Linked DNA regions of Homo sapiens: region 2 is linked to region 1. The links come from fine-mapping of genetic effects on gene expression. A gene starts in region 1. The other region holds a variant in brackets. All regions are shown on one strand. Distances are between the middles of the regions. Region 1 holds the start of TGFBR1 (transforming growth factor beta receptor 1). Region 2 overlaps COL15A1 (collagen type XV alpha 1 chain).

Evidence for each region. PIP is the estimated chance that this variant, and not a neighbour inherited with it, causes the effect.
Region 2: its variant is fine-mapped to the expression of TGFBR1 in tibial artery (GTEx, PIP above 0.99).

What each region holds. Positions count from the first base shown.
Region 1 is chr9:99,103,794-99,106,701 of GRCh38, forward strand. It overlaps TGFBR1 (transforming growth factor beta receptor 1), which reads left to right and starts at 1,320. Exons shown (of 9, transcript NM_004612.4): 1 at 1,320-1,509. The coding sequence starts at 1,413. RefSeq lists silencers at 848-1,447, 1,538-2,047.
Region 2 is chr9:99,028,664-99,031,571 of GRCh38, forward strand. All of the region lies in intron 16 of COL15A1 (collagen type XV alpha 1 chain), which reads left to right. Among named protein-coding and RNA genes, the nearest start is that of TGFBR1, 75 kb to the right of the region's middle. The variant G/A (reference allele first, on the strand shown) is at 1,771.

The DNA of each region.
Region 1 (2,908 bases):
CAATATCCACGCCTTTTCCCTTTTCATCTCCCGGAAGGAAGCCTTCACAGGTGGGGAAAATGCTCACCCAGTGACTCTAAAGTAGTGCACAAATTGGCATTAATCAGAACCATTCTGATTCCTGCTATCAAGGTTTATTTAATTCTAAGCTCAAATGACACAGAAAATAAAATTTCCTCCTTAAAAGGTTCTGCGGAAAAATATTCTCTGTTCTACGTAACAGCCTCCTTGGCTGTGTTTGTGTCTGAAGAAAGGACTAGTCTGACAGGAAGAATTACAAATCTGGAGCTCATTTTGGCGTCGCAGAGGGAAGGTGGGTGGAGCGTCTCGCAGTAAATTAGGAATTCAGAATGAAAACGTAGAGTTTATTTGGGTTTTTAGTGACACCTCAGGATTATTATACAGCAGTGTCAGACACAGCTCAAAGTAATGATGACTGCTCCCCCTCCGCCCCGCGGGAGCTGGGTGCTAAGAAGGGGGAACCCCTCCTTTGAGGGGTTGGGGTGGGGATCCTCCCTTTCCAACCTGGATCGGGAAGGGGTTTGAGAGGAGTGCGGCTTGGATCCCCATCCTGGATCTGTGCTGGAGGGAGGCGGGAGGCTATTTGGGGGTGTGTTTGGGCTCAGGATCTGGGTCTGACGCTGGGATCTGAGGACTTTCTGGGTTTGGAACTGGGTGGGGGAGCTGGGTTTGGGGTGACCGCTGGGAGCAGGAGGAAATAGGAGAGTGAGTCGCATGTGAAGGGCACTGAGGAGGGATCTTCGGGGGAATGCTGAAGTTGATGCGTGGACTTGGAGAGGGGAAGTTGAAGTGGATGCAGGGGCCTGGCGCTGCAGCGGATCTGGGTGGCATGTGCTGGGATTGCCAATGCGGAGCTGTGAATGGGGTCAGGGTGGGGCTGAGGCAGTACCAGATCTTCCGCGCCTAGAGGAGGTTAGAAGAAAAGAGCGTCGAACGGCCACAGCCTTTTTCCGAAAGAGACTCACACAGACACACCCATCGCTCTACCCGGCCCTCCGGGGCTAGCGGCTGAGCGGTGCTGGGGCTGGCAGACCCCGCCCCCACGCGGCCTCTCGGAGCCGGGAGCCGATCGGGCCGGGGCTGGGGTCTGGCGGCCCAGCCCCCGGGGAGCGTGGGGCGTGGCCAGAAACCGGCGCTCGCGGCTGCGGATTGGCTGCCTGGCGGGCCCGCAGGCGGGGCTCCCGGCTGGGTCCCGCTTGGCAGCTCGCGGCGGCGGGGAGGCGGGGCCGGCGGGAGCCCGGCAGCCAATGGACGCGCGTCCTCCGAGCAGTTACAAAGGGCCGGAGCGAGGCCGCCGCGGCGGCTAGGGAGGTGGGGCGAGGCGAGGTTTGCTGGGGTGAGGCAGCGGCGCGGCCGGGCCGGGCCGGGCCACAGGCGGTGGCGGCGGGACCATGGAGGCGGCGGTCGCTGCTCCGCGTCCCCGGCTGCTCCTCCTCGTGCTGGCGGCGGCGGCGGCGGCGGCGGCGGCGCTGCTCCCGGGGGCGACGGGTGAGCGGCGGCGCGGCGGGCGGGCGACTGCGGGGCGCGCGGGCCGGACCCGGCCTCTGGCTCGCTCCTGCTCTTTCTCAAACATGGCGCGGGGCCGGGGGCGCAGGTGGCGGCGCCGGGGCCCGGGCCGGGCTCTCGTGGCGCCGCGCGGCTCGGCGGCTGCCGGGCGAACCGCAAGCGGGGAGCGGAGGCGGGGCAGGGGCGTGTGTCCGGGCGCGGGCGGACGTGTCCGGCTGCCCGAGGCCGCCCCGCTCGGGACTCCCCGGGGAGGTGGAGTCGGGCGGAGTCGTCCGAGGTCCGGGGCTGCCCTCTGGGGTGTGAGTGGGCGAGGGCCAGGGGCGGAGAGTGCGAGGCCGGCGGGGACTGGCAGAGCCGTGGCTGCCCGCCGCCGCCCCCTGGGCACGGCGTGACCTTGTTCTGGGGACCCCCGCCCCAAGAGGGTCCGTGCCAGAGGCTGCCGAACCCGGGGCGGGGTTTGAGGTTGGGGTGGAAGGCGGCTCCCGGGCGGGGTGTGAGCTCCGAGCCTCTAGGGCTTCGTCCAGTGGGAGTCGGGGGCGACGTGTGGTGAGACCCCTGGGTCCGCAGGCCGCCCTGACTCCCGCCCGGCTCGACCCGAGCCGACCCTGCTGGAAGGGGCTGCTCCTCCAGCCAGGGGGGCTTTGTGTGAGAAGAAGGAAGCGCGGAGATGCGCGGAATGTTTCTTCTTTCGTGCGTCTGGGGAGTGTTGAAGTGAGTCCAGTAACCAGACGGCTACGGATTGTTTTCATAGTGGAAACTTGAACGTTTGCTCATTCTGCGGGTTTTGGAAATTTTGGGAACGACTGTGAATTGATTAAACGCTTTTTATTTCCTCGAAGGAACATCACTCACGTTGTTCCTTTTCTTGAGTGACAGTTAATAGTTTGATTCAGACATCTGTATAGCTGGTTTTCAAGGAAGACTGTTGGCTGGATTTTTCAAAATAGTAAATCAGGTTGGGGTAGGTGGTTGGTATCCACAAAGGGATGAGTGAAAAACTTCGTTAGCAGCTGAACTGAGACACTAGAAGCTAAAATACACAGCCTCAGTGTTAGCAACTAAAATGCAGTGAAAGTACATTTCTGTTTCTGAAACTGGACAAAAGATGTTGAAATTTTTTTAAAAAATCAAGACTGACGGTGACGATTATAATCAGTCCTAATAGCTACCGTCTATGTATTGTGCATTACTACGATGTAAATGCATACACTATTGTATAATTACATTATTTAATCACCACAAGTAAACTCCCAGGAGTAGTGGCATTTGCCCCACTTTACAGATGTGCAAAGTGGGGTACAGACACGTTAAGTACCCAATAACTTAAGTGCTAAAGCTAGGATTTTCACTCAGATCTCAGTTTCCCAAACCTGTATGTCAT
Region 2 (2,908 bases), 75 kb before region 1:
AAAAGATTGATACAACAGACTTGGGGGAAAGGGTGGGAGGGAGTGAGGGATAAAAGAGTACAGATTGGGTACAGTATACACTGCTCAGGTGATGGGTGCACCAAAATCTCAGAAATCACCACTGAAGAACTTACTCACGTAACCAAATACCATCTGTTCCCCAAAAAACGTATTGAAATTATACAAATTAAAATATTTTTTAAATGATACCTCAAAAAGAATTTATCAAATAGATTATTCTATGCTGAGTTCGATGATAGAAATATTCCTTACTTTATTTTTCCCAAATCAAGATGATCAACTAACTCTTAAGATCTTTAGCCCAAGAAGGAATGGGTGAGGAGTAGCCTGCTTTCTCAGCAGTAGAATGTTTCTAGAAAGAATGCAGAAGAACTTGCTGAAGAAGATGGATCTCTGAAAAATCATTCCTTTCTGCTTTTGCACTGCAGATTCTGCCATTCAGTTCTCGGAACACACCTAGTATTAACAGTTGTTGTTGATTTTCTACTTTCAGAATCTAAGTCATTCATGTTATTCTGCAGTCTCAAAAGGTACTGGGACACCTGGGCAGGAAAGAGTTTGTGCTTGGAAATTTTCTTCAGTGTCCAGAATTACTGTGGAATGCTGAATTGCCAGTAATTGCCTTTGAGTAATTTCACTGAGCTGCCAAACTGTCATTGTAAAATCAGCTTCTGTCTTTTCCGTTGATGTAAGAGAAATACAATTAGATCATCATCACCTTCCCTTTCTCCAAGCAATCCCAATTGGTCTTTGAACAATTCTCTAAACCTTGTATAAGAAAGAAAAGAGAAGTAAGCTGCTTTTGCCTAGGATGCAGTAATGGGTTTAGACCTTCTAACAACATGTTTAAATGAAACACTGAAATAGTTGCCTAATTTCCTATTTTATATCTTCTTTCATTATCAGAAGTGTTTGGTTCAACATCTGGATTATAGGCCTCCATAAAACCAAATAGATGGCTGGGTACGGTGGCTCACTCCTGTAATCCCAGCACTTTGGTAAGCCTAGGTGGGTGGATCACCTGAGGTCAGGAGTTTGAGACCAGCCTGGTCAACATGGCGAAACCCCATCTCTACTAAAAATACAAAAAATTAGCTGGGCATGGTGGTGGGCACCTGTAATCCCAGCTACTCGGGAGGCTGAGGCAGGAGAATCACCTGAACCCGGGAGGCCGGGGTTGCAGTGAGCCGAGATCGTGCCATTGCACTCCAGCCTGGGCAACAAGAGCAAAACTCCATCTCAAAAAAAAAAAAAAAATCATATAGACCATAGTCAATTGTAACAGAAAAGAAACTGGTTATCAGTATTACAAACAGCAGAAGGAAAACCAACAGACATCCACAAGGCAGTAAGATGTGCTGTCTCAGAAGCCACACAAGCAAAAAGAATCCTCATCTCCATTAGGTTCTTTGAGGTTCCTGTGTGCTGAAATTGAGTAATGTCCTTAGAAAATCCAATTCACCACAGTAAGCCAACATTTTGAATCAATTCTAAACCACGATGTTGTAACAGACGGCACTATTTTACCTCATTCCTTTGCAATGTTTCCATTAGTGAACTGATACCTTCATATTTCATCACTTTTAAAACCATACTTGCAGCTCTGCTATTTGGAATTCCAAGATTGCATGCATGCCCTCACTGCACAAAAATTCTCTCACTAAGAAATAATGTACAACTCCAACATCACCATTTTGGGAATAGGAGCCTTCCCTCAGCCTGTTCATTGGAGCTCCTCCTTTTCACCCT[G/A]CCTGTTCACATAAGTTCCAGTAAAGTGGACTCTTCTACCCACAAGTTAATCTACTCGTGTTCCAAGCTGATGGCCATCTTATCTGTGAGTCAATGGAATGGATTCAGATACTCTCTTTTTACCATGTCTAAGCTGGATAAAATCATCTAAGACCATAAACCAAGGCCCATGATATCTTCTAGAACTTCCTTTGAAACTCTATAAGATGCCCTCTTGATTGGAAAGGAATGAGGAAGGCAACTGAAACAATTCAGTTTTTCACTTTATGGACATAATTTTCTGTAACAAGATCAGCCGGCCATGCAGCTACAAGGTTTTTAGAGGGAGGCTACTTTAGTTTCTGTTTCACAACAATCCTGATGGTAGTTTGACTTGTTACTGAAAAGATGCACAAGATTGGCACTTTCATTAAAGACAGTTTGCAATGGGCAGCCAGCAACAAGCCAATCATACCCAAGAGGAGCAGACATAGCAACTGTAGCCTCTGGGTTAGGCTATAAAATTGGCATCCAGTTATTGGAGTCATGTTTCCACTGCAGGTGGAAGGTCACACTTAGTTTCTCCCTGGTGAGGCTGGCCAGCAGGGAGGTGACAGAGCCTAGTCGCTGTCACTTCTTTCACCGAGCACACCTTCTCCTCCCATCTCCCCAGAATGGCTGGAGTGTCCCTGCTGGCTCCTTTGCCACAGAGGCACCAACTTTCCATGAAGCTGCCCCTGGAGACCTTATGGAGGGCTTTGCTCGCAGAAATTCCTTGCCACTCCAGCCTCAGAGCCTGCCTCCAGAGCCTGGTGCCTCACCTGGGAGCCCAGACCACCCTCAGCCCCTGTGATCCCCATTCCTAGGCCAAGAACTGGGTAGTGTGTCCCAATAGGAAAACACTGCAAGAGATGGGACCCTTCCCATGCCCCACGCATGCCCCCAGGTGAGAGGCATTTGTCTTCCTCCAGCATCAGGTGGAAACCCTCACCTAGCAAACCCATGAACCTCACCCATGGGAGCAGCCAGTTCCGTGAGGAAGGTTATCACAACTACCAAGCAAACAGCATGGGCTCGAGTCTGTGAAGGAGAAAGGGGGAGATTGTTGCGTGGGGGTTGCCTATTGTGTGCAGGCAGTTTTGCGGACACGTCATGGCCT